Homo sapiens: one gene and its partners. The protein of the gene in region 1 purifies or fractionates together with the protein of each later gene. This does not show direct contact. Each region holds a gene or a part of one and is shown in the gene's direction. Other genes may lie near its edges. The genes, in order: ISM2, LRCH4, PEX1 and RSPRY1.

What was found.
Region 2: the proteins of ISM2 (region 1) and LRCH4 purify together in Homo sapiens (affinity purification with mass spectrometry; one large-scale study listed by BioGRID and IntAct). This does not show direct contact.
Region 3: the proteins of ISM2 (region 1) and PEX1 purify together in Homo sapiens (affinity purification with mass spectrometry; one large-scale study listed by BioGRID and IntAct). This does not show direct contact.
Region 4: the proteins of ISM2 (region 1) and RSPRY1 purify together in Homo sapiens (affinity purification with mass spectrometry; one large-scale study listed by BioGRID and IntAct). This does not show direct contact.

The regions. Positions count from the first base shown.
Region 1 is NC_000014.9:77,474,448-77,478,945, reverse strand, and holds part of ISM2 (isthmin-2 isoform 1 precursor), read left to right. Parts: intron 1-230; coding exon 231-371; intron 372-620; coding exon 621-704; intron 705-2,833; coding exon 2,834-3,351; 3' UTR 3,352-4,498.
Region 2 is NC_000007.14:100,579,062-100,583,559, reverse strand, and holds part of LRCH4 (leucine-rich repeat and calponin homology domain-containing protein 4), read left to right. Parts: intron 1-1,100; coding exon 1,101-1,245; intron 1,246-1,392; coding exon 1,393-1,519; intron 1,520-1,677; coding exon 1,678-1,783; intron 1,784-4,498. UniProt on the Homo sapiens protein: Accessory protein that regulates signaling by multiple TLRs, acting as a broad-spanning regulator of the innate immune response. In macrophages, binds LPS and promotes proper docking of LPS in lipid raft membrane. May be required for lipid raft maintenance.
Region 3 is NC_000007.14:92,485,840-92,490,833, reverse strand, and holds the end of PEX1 (peroxisomal ATPase PEX1), read left to right. Parts: intron 1-922; coding exon 923-1,120; intron 1,121-1,410; coding exon 1,411-1,541; intron 1,542-3,292; coding exon 3,293-3,377; 3' UTR 3,378-3,809; downstream 3,810-4,994. UniProt on the Homo sapiens protein: Component of the PEX1-PEX6 AAA ATPase complex, a protein dislocase complex that mediates the ATP-dependent extraction of the PEX5 receptor from peroxisomal membranes, an essential step for PEX5 recycling.
Region 4 is NC_000016.10:57,206,235-57,210,328, forward strand, and holds part of RSPRY1 (RING finger and SPRY domain-containing protein 1 isoform 1 precursor), read left to right. Parts: intron 1-1,358; coding exon of another isoform or gene 1,359-1,451; intron 1,452-1,823; coding exon 1,824-1,876; intron 1,877-2,840; coding exon 2,841-2,953; intron 2,954-4,094.

The DNA.
Region 1 (4,498 bases):
TTATACTGTCTTTTCAGAGCCACCTGATATATTTGCACAGGTTATTCACTGCAGAAGGGAATCCAGTTGAGGGAGCAGGTGGAAGCTGAAATCCAGCCCAGCTTCATTCATGAGGCTGGAAGCCCTGGCATGGGCTGCATCCACCTGAGGAAAGGGTGCCCTGTGCTGATTTGTACCAATTTGCCCTGTGAGCTATATGCACTCACCCCCAACTCCCTGTCTTAACCCAGACTATGAGCCTCAGAAGGAGTGGAGTCCCTGGTCTCCCTGCAGTGGGAACTGCAGCACTGGCAAGCAGCAGAGGACTCGGCCCTGTGGCTATGGCTGCACTGCCACCGAGACCCGTACCTGTGACCTGCCCTCCTGTCCTGGTGAGATGAGCCCCTACCCCTGCATAGGAGTGGCTGGTGCGGCTTAGGCTGGAGGCTTGGTCCCCTGGGAATGTGGGTGGGCTTGGGAGATGGGATGCAGGAAGCTCAAAAACATGGTGGTCCTGCCTTGTCCCAGGCCTATTTTGGCTGCTGTGGGCACTGAGAGCCTATTGAGGTGGGGGGGTTTCCCCATCAGCGGCACTGAGGTGGCCTGCGGAGCCACCAGCCTGGCCTCCTTTCCTCCCAAAGGCACTGAGGACAAGGACACCTTGGGCCTCCCCAGTGAGGAGTGGAAGCTCCTGGCCCGCAATGCTACGGACATGCATGATCAAGGTGAGTGAGGGGCTAGGCTTGCCCCTGGTGGTTTGGGGAACGAGCTCTCAGGGGAGGGTGGGGTATTATTCCATGGCAGGAACCTGGCTTCTTTCCACTAGGCAGAGAGCACAGCTTCCATCTGGAAGGTTTGCTTCTCCAACAGGGGGCCCTGGCATTTCTGAGCCAGCTCATTGGCCTTTCTCAGACTGGTATTCCTACTGGGAAGGTCTTAATGGGAGCGGCAGAGCTTAGAGATCATCTGGTGGGGGCATATCCTATCCTCCCTGGCAGCAGGATAGGGTGGGGACGTTCTGACTTCCATTCCTTGGTTACTCTTGGGAGGCTCCTGGGCAGGCTCTGTCTGGAGAGGGGGATGCAGTGCAGTCAGAAATGGGTCAGTGTGCAGAACTCCAGCATTGCTCCTCCAGGCAGCTGGGCATGGGGCAGGCGTCCACCTGCACACTCTGAGTCTGTGTCTGTTGGTCTTACTTGCACCCTGCAAGGAAGGCAGGGAGACCAACCTTGCAGATAAGGGTTGCACTCAGCACAGCAAGAGCCTACTGAGCCTGCATCATGTGCCTGGCCATGGTGCTGGCACAGGGGATGTCAGCAGCCTGAGGCTTGGTCCATGTCCTCAAGGAGCTCAGGTCCCATGGGGGAAAGACACGCATAACCCATGTGAGCACTGCACTGCAAAGAAGGCCCTAAAGATTTGGGAGCAGAGAGGAAGGAGCAGTTTGTTTTCTGGTACAGGGGTGGGCCTGGGAAATGTGTGTCTCTTCCCCTCTCCTGTGTTACCATTTCCCAGGCTCCTCCTTCACTCCCAGTCAAAACCCAAATCCCAGCATCTGGATCCTGGGGAAGGTTCCAGTCCCTTGGAGATGTGCAGAGCCTCAAACTATCAAAGTCAGTCCCCCAGTGTCCGGGGCTGGACAGCTCATCCCATTAGGATGAGGGCACAGAAGGGAAAATGAGAAACAAGACCCGGTTAACAGCATCCACTCAGGCAGATTCTGGGGAGTGAGGAGCAAGGTTCTGCACATTCCCACGTGGCCAGCCGCCCAAGGCCATTTTTCTTCTTTCTGCTGTTCCCTGGTGACTGCAGTGTTTTCCCCTTCCCTGCTCGCTGCAGGGCTCTGGTGAGTCTGGGGGGCACCTCTTTCTGGTTTATGAAGGCTCCTGGCCTCTGCTGCACTGTGCCATGGGGACCGGGTGAAATGGTGAGACAGAGTCTTGCTCTGTCACCCAGGCTGGAGTGCAGTGGTGTGATCTCAGCTCACTGCAACCTCCACCTCCTGGGTTCAAGTGATTCTCATGTCTCAGCCTCCCGAGTAGCTGGGATTACAGGCATGCGCCACCAAGCCCGGCTAATTTCTGTATTTTTTGTAGAGACGGGACTTTGCCATGTTGGCCAGGCTGGTCTTGAGCTCCTACCTCCTGCCTTGGCCTCTAGAAGTGCTGAGATTACAGGCGTGAGCCATCGCGCCTGGCCCCCCAGCTCTTCTATTTAAGAGAACCTCAGTCAGATGTACTTTAGCCTCAGGTTTTTGTTTTGAGGGATATAATTTATTTTAAAATTAAATAAAAATATAGTTTAAAAAAAGGCCACGTTTCCCGAGGTGGAGATGGGGAGGAGAGCAGCATAGACAGAGGGGGCCACAGGAGGCCCAAAGTGGCCAAATGACTCACCCCAGGCCAGATTGCCTGAGAAAGGCAGCGTTCAGAACAAGAATGGTCCAGTGGCTAAAATAATGAAACCTTCTTACCAGTTGGTGAAAAGCTGCTGTACCTGTCTCCACTCACCCCAGATCCTTTTCCAAGATCTCAGGATCTTTCCCACCATTCAGCACATGACACCTAAACCTTTCCCACCATTCAGCATGTGACATATGGCACCGCAGAGGACATCTGGGTCATTGCTCCAGCCCCTTGGCCTGTGTCTGTTCTGAGCAAGAGCTTCTTGCTTCAGGTTGTCTGGATGGTGTGGGGTAGCCTCTCTCCATCCCCAAGGCCCTACCAAGCCACGCCTTTGCACCAGCTGGGGCCTGGGCCTTCTCTCCCCATGCACTGGCCCTTAATCAGTCCCCGCCCCACACGGGCCTGGCTCTGTCACTGGCTTCCCTCCTGCACTTTGTGGCCCTTTGCAGATGTGGACAGCTGTGAGAAGTGGCTGAACTGCAAGAGCGACTTCCTAATCAAGTATCTGAGCCAGATGCTGCGGGACCTGCCCAGCTGCCCGTGTGCCTACCCACTGGAGGCCATGGACAGCCCTGTGAGCCTACAGGACGAGCACCAGGGCCGCAGCTTCCGGTGGAGGGATGCCAGTGGCCCTCGCGAGCGCCTGGACATCTACCAGCCCACGGCGCGCTTCTGCCTGCGTTCCATGCTGTCTGGGGAGAGCAGCACACTGGCCGCCCAGCACTGCTGCTATGACGAGGACAGCCGGCTGCTGACCCGTGGCAAGGGCGCCGGCATGCCCAACCTCATCAGCACCGACTTCTCACCTAAGCTGCACTTCAAGTTCGACACGACGCCCTGGATCCTGTGCAAGGGGGACTGGAGCCGCCTCCACGCTGTGCTCCCTCCCAACAACGGCCGAGCCTGCACCGACAACCCCCTGGAGGAGGAGTACCTAGCACAGTTGCAGGAGGCCAAGGAGTACTAGTGACGGGGTTGCTGAACAGACACTGCAGGGAGAGGGCAGGCGGCTGCTGCTGTTGCACGGGAGAACTTTCCTCACCCGCCCCTGCCCAGACAGGGTGAGGAAAGGGCTCCCCCAGTGAGGTTGGTCCGAGGCTGTGTGCCCTCTGCCAGCGACCCCGAAGCAGATATCTCAGTGGGGTTAGTGAGAAGGTTGAAGGGTATGTAGGGCCCAGGGTGGGTGTCCCTGGGAGCCCTGGAAATGTGCATATGTGCATGTGTCTGCCGGGGCCTCCCTCTGCTGCCTGCTGGGACCCTGGCCACTCATTTTTCTCCTCCTTGGGAGCTGGGCTCTTCTGCCCTGGCTCTGCACATAAGTGTTAGCCAGCAGCTCCAGAAAAATCCCGATTCCCGGGATCTGCCACGAGTCACTCCTACTCCACCCTGATGGCCAGCAGAGGAAGGGCCACTCTTCTCATGGGCACAGCCATCCTTTGCCGGGGGGGGCATCCAGCCTGGGTGGCCACCCCTCCTTATCTCTGGGTGGTGCACATGCCCTTCTTTCCCCACTCCCTGCCACGAGCCACTGCACAGGAGGCTATCTGTAGCCCCAAGCTGCCTTTCTGTTGGACACCAACTTTAGTCTTGGGCTGCAAGCCAGCCCAGCTGAGGCGAAGTGGACTCCAGGCAGGGAATGGGTTGCCCAATTCTGGTCCCTTTCCTTTGCTCAGCCCCCTCTGTTCTGCTGATTGTAGGGATGTGCAGGGCTGGGAGTTGGCACTCCCCCCGAGTGGGGAGGTGACAGCTTGTCACAGTAGCCAGGCTTGGGTGGGTTCAGCACTAGCTCGGGACGGTGTGTCACACGTCTATAGTAAACCAGTTCTCTGGGAGGGGAAAAAAGCCCTGATTTATTGCATTTGGGCAGCTTCTGTGGTGTAAATTCTCCCAGCAGTGTCCCATGTCATGCTGCCAGCATCACTGAATGCACTGAACTCAGAGTTGGGAAGAGATGCACATAATCGCTCTCCCGGCACACCTCATGCCTCTTCCCTGCCTCCCCATTCCCCTGGCTGCACTTCCTTGCCTTCTATGGGGTTGAAATATTGAAGTCTCAACTGTCTCTGTTCACAAGAGCCACCAAAAGTTAGGGGACTTCAGTCCTAGCCCCCAGA
Region 2 (4,498 bases), on another chromosome or scaffold:
CCGGCTTCTCTCCTCTGCTTGCTTTTGCTGGCCTGCCCTTCCCTGAGAAGGGCCCTTGGAGAAGCTCACCAGGTCTGTGGCCTGGGACTCCGCCTCGCGGGCCCTGGGCCCCTCCCAGGACAGGCTGGGCCGAGGAAACAGAAAGGCAGGCTTCTCCAGGTCTAAGCCGTTAGTGGGTCCGTGCTACAGGGAATCCCAAGGCTGCCAGCCTCCGCATAGCAAGGCAGTGCTCCAGATAAGAGGGCGATTGTAGACCCCAGGCCCTCCCACACTCTCCACCCTCGCCGTGCCTGAGATGCTCACACAGTTGCTGATCTCTTGAAGTCTGTGTCAGTAAGAGAGGAAGCAGAGCCGGGCTGCTAGGGCTAGCAGAGGGTAGGAAGGATGCCTGCCCTGGGCCAGAGAAGCCCAGATGGGAGGGACCTGGGAACTCCAGCTCCCATCTCCAACCAGGTCTTCTTGCCCTTCCCTCCCAGCCCTTGGGAATCAGTAACTTTATGATTCTTTGGACCTGGCTTGCTGGTCCTTGGGGCTGGCGAAAAACTCGTCCGGTGTCGGGGACTTTATCTCTAGAACCAAGATAGAGTGACCTGTGGTTTTTCCCGTGTTGAAAACACACTGGAGTAGGGAAGAAGGGCCCCGAGGAGGGATGGGCACTCCCTGTGGTTTGCCCCAGGGGTTTCCCATCTTCCCTCCGGGAGCCCCCCAGCCCCTCGCCTTACTGTTTTCCCATGAGCACTGACCCCTCCTCTCACCTTCGGTCCTCCGCCTCACCTGGCATCTCTGAACAGGAACCACAGGAGTTAGAGATTCCAGCTGCTCTCCAGGATAGCCCTCCATTGACATTCCCCAACCCCCAAGTCTGAGGCTTCTCTAGCCCAGTGACGCTAAGGCCTTTGCCTTCCCTGTGCCATTCTGGTCACGCCTGGAATGTGCTCCCGTTGGCAGAAGGCTTTGTTATCTCTCCTGGGAGGCCACATTGATGGCCTTGAATCTTTAGGTGTGGAGGTGAGGGAGTGGGCAGCCGGCTCTGGGGGGACTGAAGGTCCTGTCCGGGCTGGGCCTTTCCGCAACTCTCCCCGACACCTCCTTTTCCCCAGACCTGTCCCGGAACCGGTTTCCCGAGGTGCCCGAGGCGGCGTGCCAGCTGGTGTCCCTGGAGGGCCTGAGCCTCTACCACAATTGCCTGAGATGCCTGAACCCAGCCTTGGGGAATCTCACAGCCCTCACCTACCTCAACCTCAGGTAGGGAGGCCGAGCCAGGGCCACGTGGGAGCGTGTGCTTCTCAGTCTCAAGTACTACTGAGTGACCCACCCAGTGACCCCGAGAGGATGGCAGTGCTGGGATGCCATGCCTGGGGAGCCAGTCCGCTGCCTTTCTCCCTTCCACAGCCGAAACCAGCTGTCGCTGCTGCCACCCTACATCTGCCAGCTGCCCCTGAGGGTCCTCATCGTCAGCAACAACAAGCTGGGAGCCCTGCCCCCTGACATCGGCACCCTGGGAAGCCTGCGACAGCTTGTGAGGATGGGGACGGGACCAGGAAAGGGACCCCTGAGCCAGGCAGCGGGACCTTCTAGGGGGAGGTTGGGGAGGGCCTGGAGCAAAGACAGAGATGGGAGGGTGGGTTCTGCTGGGCCTGGTCTCATGGCCCCTTCCCACTGCCTTCCTGATACCAGGACGTGAGCAGCAACGAGCTCCAATCCCTGCCCTCGGAACTGTGTGGCCTCTCTTCCCTGCGGGACCTCAATGTCCGGAGGAACCAGCTCAGTACGCTGCCCGAAGGTGAGAAGAATGAAGAACTGGAGAGGAGGTGTTTGTATGTGCGTCCCAGTTGGCTCAGGCTGCGGTAACGAAAACACTGCAGACCGGGTAGCTTATACATGGCAGGCATTCATTTTTCACAGTTCTGGAAGCTGAAGTTCAGGATCTGGGTGCTTCCATGGTCAGCTTCTGGCAGGGTGCTTTTCCTGGCTGCAGACTGCCGGCTCCTTGTGGTACTCTCCGATGGCGGAGAGCAGAGACAGCCCTCTGGGGCCTCTTTGATAAAGGAGCACAAATCTCACTGATGAGGGCTCCACCCTCATGATCTCAATTACTTCCCTAAGGCCTCGCTTCCTAATCCCATCACTTTGGGGGTTAGGATTTCAGCAGAGGACTTTTTGGGTGACACATTTCAGTCCATAACAGTGTATGTGCTTTGAAGAAGTTACAGGCCAGGAATCTTCAGAGGAGAATTACACCTTCATTGTCCAGGCTTTTGCAGTATATAAAACAAACTGTAAACGATCTGATTTGATCTTGACCTAGCAACCCTCTGATGCTGGCAGGGCGCAGATGAGCAGCTGTGTTAGAAACGTGGACACAGGCACAGAAGGGGAGCTGGTGGGTGCATCAGCTCTAGGTAGACTGGCAAGGTCAGAAGGGGCCTTCAAGGTCACCCAGCAGCCCTGCTCACCCCAGCAGGGGCTCTCAAACACCTGAGTCGGGATGCTCCGCCACTCCTCCCGGAGATGCCAGGGCCAGTGCCAGAGCCCAGGTGGCCCATCTAATGTGCTTGTTGTGATGCACTGATAGCCTCTGCCCCAAAGCAGGCATGCCTTTTGTTCAGCAGGCAGCAGCATGTGTGTGTGTCTGTGTGTGTTATGTCTTGTGTCTGCGTGCATGTGTGTGTCTGTGTGTATGTATGTGTTTGTGTATGTGTGTGTTGTGTCTGTGCATGTGTCTGTGTGTCTGTGCATGTGTGTCTATGTGCATGTGTATGTGTGTCTGTGTCTGTTCGTGTGTTGTGTTTATGTCTGTGTTATTTATGTCGTGTGTGTGCGTGTGTATGTTTGTGTGTCTGTGTTTGTGTGTGTGTTGTGTTTATGTCTGTGTTATGTCGTGTGTGTCTGTGCATGTGTATGTGTGTTTGTGTCTGTGTGTGTCTTTGTGTGTGTGTTTGTGTTTATGTCTGTTGTGTGTGTTTAGGTCTGTGTTGTGTGTGTTGTATGTGTTGTGTGTGTTTGGGTGTGTGTTGTGTGGGTTGTGTGTATGTGTTGTGTATGTTTATGTGTGTGTTGTGCATGTTGTTTGTGTCTGTGTGTATGTATGTTGTTTGCGTGTGTGTGGGTTTTGTGTGTGTGTGTGTGTGTGTGTGTGTGTGTGTGTGTGTGTGATGTGTGTATGATTCCTGTGTTGGGATCAGGTAGATGCGGGTGATGTGACTAAGATCTGGGGCCATCTCTTAGGGATTTAATGGCTTCTTGAGGAGAGACAGTCATAGGGAAGTTCCGTCAGGGGGTTCCCCAGACGGGGGCTAGAGGGAGGTGGCACTGGACTCTGCGTGGGGGTCCTGGGGAAGACTTCACCGGAGGCGCAGGCGCAGTGGGAGCCGAACATTGAAGGAGAATTCCCCAGCCTTCTGCATCCAGGCAGAGGACCCAGCATGTGCAAAGCATGGGGTTAGGAAGGTGAGCCAGGCATGGCAGGAAGGCCTGTGCCATGCTCAAGTGTGAACTTGGTTTTGAAGAACAAGGAGGGAGTGAGGTGGTCATCCACTTTCCCTGTCTCCCTACTCCCTGACCCTTTCTGCACCTGCCCTCTTCCTTCCCAGTCAAAAGGGGTAGGAAGGGCTCTCTCTGGGCCATAAAAAGAAATCCAAGCAAGATGTCCTGGGGACAGAGGCAAGAGCAATGAGTTCCATCCAATCTGGGATGTCTGGAACGATCCACCGAGGAGGTGGTGATGCTTGAGCTGAACCTTGAAAGATGCATGGATGGGGAAAATGGAGTTCTCCCAGCTGAGCAAACAGCACCTGGGAAGGCTCAGAAGCTGAGGGCCCGGAGGGGTGGGCAGTGAGGTGGGAAACGCGGGTGGAGCCAGGTTGTGGAAGCCTTCCTCATGCTGGGTTAGGGAGCTGTGGGTTTTATTCTGTGCTTAGGGCCGCCATGAATCCAGACTGTGCCTTTTTTTTTTTTTTTTTTGAGACAGAGTCTCGCTCTGTCACCCAGGCTGGAGTGCAGTGGCGCAATCTCGGCTCACTGCAAGCTCCGCCTCCCAGGTTCACGCCATTCTCCTGCCTCAGCCTCCCAAGTAGCTGGGACCACAGGCGTCCGCCACCACACCCGGCTAATTTTTTGTATTTTTAGTAAAGACAGGTTTTCACCATGTTAGCCAGGGTGGTCTCAATCTCTTGACCTTGTGATCCACCCGCCTTGGCCTCCCAAATTGCTGGGATTACAGGCGTGAGCCACCGTGCCGGTCCCAGACTGTGCCTTTTTAAGATGAGCAAAAGGCACCTTTCCCTGTGGGCAGGCAGCATTTCATGCAGGGTGCAGTGCTGGGCCCGTGCTGGGGAAAGGGGACTCCCGGGCGGCCACAATCCGCTCAACATCTGCAGCCCTGGTTGCATGTCACAGGAGGTGTTTGAACAGGGTTTGTGCCTTGTGCTGATCATTTGAAAATGGAGGGTGGGTTCGAGTGTGGAGTGGGCAGGCGAGGAGATGAGGAGGACAGACA
Region 3 (4,994 bases), on another chromosome or scaffold:
TTCAACAGGAAAGTGTTTTGATTAAATGTGGGCAGTATCACTGTTCTACTAGCATTCAACATCTCTTCTAAAAATTAATAGTGGTTCACTGTAATTTTATTGGTACATGTAACATCTGTACATGTGTTTGGTTATCTATATGTTTCCTGGTTTTTTGTACATTTGCTTTATTAATTTAGGCTTTTTTTTTTTTTTTTTTTTGAGACAGTCTCACTCTATCATCCAGACTAGAGTGCAGTGGCACAATTATGGCTCACTGCAGCCTTGACCTCCTGGGCTTAGGTGATTCTTCCACCTCAGCCTCCTGAGTAGCTGGGACTACAGGCACATGCCACCATGCCCAGCTAATTTTTGTATGTTTTGTAGAGACGAGGTTTCACCATATTGCCCAGGCTGGTCTCAAACTCCTGGGCTCAAGCTATCTGCGTGCCTTGACCTCCCAAAGTGCTAGGATTACAGGTGTGAGCCACTATGCCTAGCCTAACTCAGACTTTAAAAATATAAAAGCAATTCATTTTTATTCCCAAGAACAGTAAGGTGGTGGTTTAATTTTAGTCTTTAATTCTGTTTTTAATTTATTCTATTTAGAAATGTCCCAGAAACTTAGTATAACTTTACTTTCTGAAAATGAAGAAACCTGTCCTTGGGCATTAGTGTGTTGGATTTAAGCAACAAAGTTAAAAAAACCTACCCTGTGTTATGGCAATTTTCACTTGATGGTGGTTCTATAACACAGGTATCAGTGAACCTTTATAAAAGATGAACAACTTTTCAGCTTGCTTAATTTCAGTTAATTAACATGTATACTTATCTATGTTAATGTTTTATTGCTTAAAATGTTTAATTTTTATATTTGGTAAACACATAGTTTTTTCTCTCCCCCTCTTCCTTCCATCTTTCATTACTACAATTTACCATGCAGAGCTCACAATGTCTCTCTGCACCAAGCTCCATGACTCAGGATTTGCCTGGAGTTCCTGGGAAAGACCAGTTGTTTTCACAGCCTCCAGTGTTAAGGACAGCTTCACAAGAGGGTTGCCAAGAACTTACACAAGAACAAAGAGATCAACTGAGGGCAGATATCAGTATTATCAAAGGCAGATACCGGAGCCAAAGTGGAGTATGGCTTTTTCCCCCTCATTATAATTGTTAAAACTTCTTAAAAATTGTTTCACCCTTTTGATATATATTTCTTTGACTTATAAACGAGCTATATTTATAAACAAGGGACCAGAACACATTAACTCAGTCATGGTTATGTGCTTCCTTGCTTTCAATGTTTCATTATCTTATAAGGAAGAGAACGTATGGTCTCTTGAAAAAACTGACAATAAGAAGTAACAACTGGACTACCACATTTTTTTTTACATCCTTAATTTAACTCTTCGTCAATTTCTTTTTTTACTTAAGGAGGACGAATCCATGAACCAACCAGGACCAATCAAAACCAGACTGGCTATTAGTCAGTCACATTTAATGACTGCACTTGGTCACACAAGACCATCCATTAGTGAAGATGACTGGAAGAATTTTGCTGAGCTGTAAGTAACAGATTCTGTTTTGGAAGTACAGCTACTATTACAAGTGACATAGTATTACACTTAAACCTTTAAAGTTCGTGTTTAAAATAAAAATATTTTGAATATTTAAAAGCTAATTCAAAAAATATGTGTCGTAGCTATGCATTAAAAAACCCCAAAATGTCAGAAGTACAGAAGTCAAAATTGAGTTTTCATTAACCAGTTCATTTGATTATATTTGAATTATTCATAATGGACTCATTTAATTTTAGTAACTTTGGGCTGGGTGCTGTGGCTCATGCCTGTAATCCCAGCTCTTTGGGAGGCCAAGGCAGGTGGATCACCTGAGGTCAGGAGTTCGAGGCAAGCCTAACCAACACGGGGAAACCCCATCTCTACTAAAAATACAAAAATTAGCCAGGTGTGGTGGCATGTGCCTGTAGTCCCAGCTACTTGGGAGGCTGAGACAGGAGAATTGCTTGAACCCAGGAGGTGGAGGTTGCAGTGAGCCGAGATTGCACCACTGCACTCCATCCAGCCTGGGCCACAGAGCGAGACTGTGTCTCAAAAAAAAAAAAAAAAAATTTAGTAACTTCGAAGAAATAAGAAGGAAAATTAAAAGTTGAAAGTGATTCTAATGTATAGTTTATAAAATTTTGTTATAAAAATACCTGTTTTGCCTTCAAAATAATTTATATTAATATTTTATTGACCTCAAGAACATTTAAATACATTCAGATTTATTCATTTGTGGACCACATTTGTTATACATTGGATTTAAAGGATCCTTGCAATTGAGTTTATGGCCACCTATGCATCTGAGACCCATGGACTGGGAACCATTCTAGGTCAATGATTCAGTGTGATTCAATTTAAGAGATGTTTATTCCTGGTCTTTAGAAGCTGCTACCTTTTGTTATCTAATTTTGCAGTACTTTGAAGTATGTATGTATGTGTACATACGTTAGTGCTATGTATTTATTAAAGAAGAATCAGAAAACAGAGGTAAGGAAAAATAAGGAAACAAATTTCTGTTAAGCCCACCACCTCCCAAAGCATATTTGTTTATATGCTTATATATGTTTTCCTATTATGGTAAGAACAGTCTGTACATATTGCTATATAGCAGTCCCCCTTTATCCACATACATCCTGAAAATTGTTTTACATTTTAAATGTTAACTACTTTATTGTTTTTAAATGTCATTTTATAGTGTAGCTATGCCACAATATCCAATTTTTAGACATTTAAATTGCTCCCAGGCAATGTGGTAATGAACATTCTTGCAGCTGAATATATGCACATATCTAATTGTTTCACTAGGATAGAGGTGGAATTGTATAACAGGGAGCTCACATTTTTTAAGGCTTTTGAAATGTATTGCCAAATTGCCTGCCAGATATACTGCACCATCACTAACATTGTGTGTTGCAGTATTTTTCTAAACTTGGCCCTTTTGATTTTAGAAAAATGATATCAATAATTTACATTTCTTTGATTAAAGTGTAGAAGTTATAATTTTTCATATTATTCATTGTCATTTGTATTTTATCTTTTCTAACTTGTCTCTTCATCCCCTTTGCTCCGTTTTCTATTGGAGTGCAACTTTATTTGTAAGAATTCTTTTTAATTTCTGTGACTGGAATTTTTTTTTCTAGTTTGTTATTTCCCGTTCATTTCTTAAAATATAATTGTGTTTGCCAACAATCCATTATCTTTTGTTTTGTAATGGTAGTATTTATACATATTAAATTATCTCTTTCTTTTTTCAGATATGAAAGCTTTCAAAATCCAAAGAGGAGAAAAAATCAAAGTGGAACAATGTTTCGACCTGGACAGAAAGTAACTTTAGCATAAAATATACTTCTTTTTGATTTGGTTCTGTTAAGTTTTTTGATGGCTTTTCCATATGTTGTAACAGGAAAAAAATGGTGTCTATGAATTTCTTCTTAATTTAACAAATTTGGTTAATTTATAAAATCACAGATTGGTAAATGCTATAATTATGTAATGATCAGGATTGAGATTAATACTGTAGTATAAATTGGGACATTATAACAGATTCCATATTTTATTTCCTAAAATCTAAATTCAGTCTTTAATGAAATAATATTAGCCAAATGGTGGAACTAATTTATTTCTTTTGAGGAAAAGATAATAAAGAATGTAATTAAATTTAAATTTCTTGGAATTCCCAGTTGTATATTCATCACCTTTGTAGCATTTGACAAATTTTATGCTTAGCAGCTTCTTCACTGTTTTGAAATAAAATATCCTATTACCTACTGATACAATTATCTGTTCTTTGTATATCAAAAAATGTGAAATTTACACATAATTCAAATACATTTAATTATCCGCTCAACCAGAAATGAAATCACATCCCTCTACTATACTACATCCAGCTCCAAGCCCAAGATATTTAAATGACATCCATTCCTCTCCTAGTTCCAGTTATGATTTTATCTTGATATTCTCTCATATATGAACTAAATTATAAAGTTAGCCACCATCAATACAATCTGCGTATCTAATATCTTAACTATATAGTAATGGGGTAAGGGAACAGCAAAAAGGAGAACATTAATTAAAATATACAAGTAAGCCTGGGCAACATAGTGAGACCCCATCTCTTAAAAAAAAAATTAGCCATGCATGATGGTATGCCTCTAGTCCCAGCTACTTGGGAGGCTGAGGTAGGAGGATCACTTGCTCCCAGGAGGTTCAAGGTTCTAAACCAGCAAAGCTCAGAATCCCAGGGGATAGAAACAAAGACTTAGTGGATCACTAGTATTAAACTGAGACACGTCACCCTGCATTGCACTTTGTTTCTCAGTTCTTTGATGAAATCACTGAGCTGACATACCTGCCCTCTTTTCACCATAAAGTGAGTTTCATGATCAGAAGCAATGTCTATGGGATAGCCTAACAAACAATGTAAAAACCATTTAGTAAGTTCATGAAGGGTGGTGGTGGTAAAAATTTGGAGAACATACAAAACAAATACAATTCCAAGGTGTGTCCCCTCCAGGAAGGACAAATTGCTGCCTGCTCTGTGATAGAAGAGGATCAGATGTAATCAACCTGCCGTCAGACTTGGGCTGTTCTCTCCTGGGTGTGGACTTGCCTGGTTGGTCACTGCTGCTGACAAGTAGGCTGTCAATATAGCTGGGTTGTCATGTCAGCTGTGGTGAGGGGGAAGTCCACATTGTGGAGGCCACATCCCTGCACTCTTGGCCAATTTGACCATGAATCTTAAGCACTGGGGTGGCTGGAAAAGACAGCCGATTGACATCCATACAGAGGTCATCTTGACCACTTGATTAGTATAAGCACTGAAGGCTTTTAACTGAGCATTCACATAGGACACAAATATTCTGATTCTTTGGGCCCATTCCAAGAACTCTGGGCATACTTTTCCTCCAGACCTCATACCCAGTTGTGTTCTTTCCAAATTTCTGGTCATCTGGTTAT
Region 4 (4,094 bases), on another chromosome or scaffold:
CTCTGCAAAAAAAATTTAAAAATTATCCAGGTACAGTGGCACTTGCCTGTGATCCCAGCTACTCAGGATTCTAAGACCGGAGTACTGCTAGAGTCCAGGAGTTTCCAGCTGCAGTGAGCTATGATCACACCACTGCACTCCAGCCTGGGCAATAGAGCAAGACCCTGTCTCAAAAATTAATTAATCAAAAAAAATTTTTTAAATCCCTTGTACCAAATTGTAATAAAAGTTATCCTTCCCAAATAAGGAAGTAAACCACAAACAATGTTAATTTAAGCTCATTGGAAAAATGGGTGCAGAATAGACTTTGAGAGAGAGAGTTTTTTTGTTTTGTTTTGTTTTTAAAGAGACAGGGTCTCACTTTGTCACCCAGGCTGGCGTACAGTGGCGTGATCATGACTCACTGCAGCCTCAGCCTCCTGGACTCAAACCATCCTCCCACCTCAGCCTCCTAAGTAGCTTGGACTACAGGCGTGTGCTACTGCACCTGGCTAATTTTTAAAAAAGTTTTTGTAGAGCCAGGTCTTGCCATGTTGCCCAGGCTGGTCTCAAATACCTGGACTCAAGCGATTGTCGAGCTTCAGCCTCCTTAAGTGCTGGGATTGCAGATGTGAGCCCCCACGCTTGGCCCCTTGCAATATTTTAAAAGAGAGTGACATAGTTATACAAACCTCTTTGTTTTTAACTTTTCTCAACATCGAAATCTGTGTTACTGTATATAAATCTACAACTGCTTCTGACTATTACAGAGTATTCCCTTGTATGCCTGAAAGTATTATATTTTGTTACATTTTCATCTGGTGATGGTCACTTAGGTTACTGCCAAATTTTTGTTCTTACAAACAGCACTGCAGTGAACAGCGCAAATATGCATTGATTTTTGGACCTGTGTAAAAATTTATCTACAACTGTTGGGTATATGCATACTTAATTTTATTATTGCCAGATCATTCTTCAGAAATACTTGCATCAGTCAATTATATTGTTTAAACAGGCAGCACCTAATGAGTACCTGAAATGACCATACTAATTCCCATATCACAAGGTTATTCTCTGGATTAAATGACTTAAGATGATAGTTTTTGGGGCTTTTTTTTTTTCCACACTAAAACAGAGACCCACAATATGTAAACAAATAAGTGGTGAGTTCTTAAGCAGTTAGAATTGTTTAATGGAAAACATCTCATTATTGAAGTTCCCCTGAAGGACTTTTTAAAGATTTCTGGGATCACACCACTGAATTAAGGTGTATAATGCCACTTTGGAGCAATGTCTAGAATGTTAAGTAGTTCCTTAAGTTTGGTTTTGTTTCTTGTAATACCATTTTATGAAGTCTAAGCATGTAGTGGTATTTCCAGAAGAAAACTTCAAAATGAAGATGCGTATATAGGCCCTTGCTTCCATAAGTCCTCAACCGGGATTGTCGTCTCTCTTCCTGGCATTTCTCTGAGGTAAGTATGAAGGTGATGTTGACCTTCCTGGCTTGTCTCAGTTGGCACTGGGCCTCTGAGTGTAAAGCTGAGAGTAGGCTGTGATCTCCAGTTTTACTCCTGTGCTTTTACCCCAGGACACATAGTAGTCTTTGTCTGTATCCACCTGCCCATTTTGTCTGTGGGTCATTGTGGACAGTGACTGGAAATGAGCACATATGGTATACATTCATCCTTACAGGTCATAGCTCAGGTTGTCTCTTCTATCTCTTTCCTTACATTTGTGTTCATTTCTTCTGTCCCTTTTTACCTCCACACCTCCAGTTTGAATTCTTATTTGGAATTGTCATTTATTATTTCCTCAGGTTTAATGCCTTGAATTTTTTTTTCCAGTGATCAGGAACCTCCCTATTCAATGATAACATTACACGAAATGGCAGAAACAGGTATTTTTAGTTTTGTTTTCATTACTTTATAATGAATATATAATAATGAAGAAAAGTAGCCACCTTTTGTTTTTTGTTTTGTTTTGTTTTGAGATAAAAGACTCCAAAAATACAGCATACATAACAATGAAAAAAGCCCTTACTGTATGGAAATTTCCCTGAATAGGTATAATAGGCAATGCATATTATACCTTTTTTTTTTTTTTTTTTTTTTTGGCATTGATGGATCTTTCACCATACTGTTCTGGAATGGAGAGGAGATTATTTATATATATATATATATATATATATTTTTTTTTTTTTTTGAGACAGAGTCTCACTCTGTTGCCCAGGCTGGAGTGCAGTGGCACGATCACAGCTCAACTACAGCCTCAACCTACCCTGGCCCAGGTGATCACCCCACCTCAGCTTCTCAAGTAGCTAGCACCACAGGCGCATGCCACAATACCCAGCAATTTTTCTGTTGTTTGTAGAGACAGAATTTCACCATGTTGGCCCAGCCTGGTCTTGTACTCCTGGGCTCAAGGGATCCTCCTGCCTCAGCCTCCCAAAGTGCTGGGATTACAGGTGTGAGCCACAGCCCCTGGCCAAAGATATTTTTTGTTCCTTAGTTTCCTAAGTATCATTCTGAAAACAAAGCCAACTGCTGAGTATACTTCATTTTCTCAGTTAACTCCTATGTAGTAAATAAGATGCTTAAAACTATTTTAATGTGAGAGCACAAGACCATAGCTTAACCTTTTTCCAAATAAAGGTACCCACAAATCACCAGACTCCTGTAACTTAAGATGTTTTTACTCCACCACGATGACTAGCAATTGATGATTATGTCCATGCCAAATATTAGCTGCTAAAAATCTATAGACCAAAAGTCTTTCTTTTAATGTGAATTGATCTCGTGTGACATATTTTCACATTTTAAAAATAGTGACTCCATCATATAATCTTCTTGATTTGCTCTTAGATGAAGGATGGTTGGATGTTGTCCAGTCTTTAATTAGAGTTATTCCACTGGAAGATCCACTGGGACCAGCTGTTATAACATTGTTACTAGATGAATGTCCATTGCCCACTAAAGTAAGTTAATACTTATCTTTTATGAAACTATCATTTGTGCTTAAGCACAAGATAAATGACCACAAAGAACATTTGATGTATTGTGTTTCATCTTTATACATTTGGGGTCTGTTTTATTCAGTATTGATTTTGTTATGTAAATTTATTTTGTATTATGAAGAATTATGTCCTCTTTTTTTTTCTTTTCCTCTTTGAGACAAGAGTCTCACTCTGTTGCCCAGGCTGGAGTGCAATGATGTGATCTTGGCTCACTGCAACCTCCGCCTCCCGGGTCCAAGCGATTCTCCTGCCTCAGCCTCCCAAGTAGCTGGGATTACAGGCACCCGCCACCACACCTGGCTGATTTTTGGATTTTTAGTAGAAACGGGATTTCACCATGTTGGCCAGGCTGGTCTTGAACTCCTGACCTCAGGTGATCCACCTGCCTCGGCCTCCTCCCAAAGTGCTGGGACTACAGGCATGAGCCACTGCACCCAGCCCTCTGTCTTTTTATTTATTTATTTTGAAACAGGGTCTCACTTTGTCACCCAGGCTGGCGTGCAGTAGAGCAATCACAGCTCACTGCAGCTGCAACCTCCCTAGGCTCAGGTGATCCTCCCACCTCAGCCTCCCATGTAGCTGGGACCATAGGTGCATGACCCCATGTCTGGCTAATTTTGTATTTTTTTTTAGAGATGGGGTTTCATCATGTTGCCCAGGCTGGTCTTGAAACTCCTGGGCTCAAGCAGTCAGCCCACCTCAGCCTCCCGAAGTGCTGGCATTGTAGGCGTTAGCCACTGTGCCCCGCCACATTCTCTATCAAGGCTTTATTTAATTGCTTTTTTTTCTTCTTTCTTTCTTTCCCTCCCTCCCTCCCTCCCTTCCTCCCTTCCTCCCTTCCTTCCTTCTTTCCTTCCCTTTCCTTCTTGCCTCCCTTCCTTCCCCGGCCCCGCCTAGGCTAGAGTGCAGTGGCACAGTCATGGCTCACTGTATCCTCAACCTCTCAGGTTCAAGTGATCCTCTTGCCTCAGCTTCCCATGTTGCTGGACTACAGGCATGCACCACCACACCTAGCTAAATTTTTTTTATTTTTTGTAGATAAAGGGTCTCACTATGTTGCCCAGGCTGATTTTGAACTCCTGGGCTCAAGGGATCCTCCCAC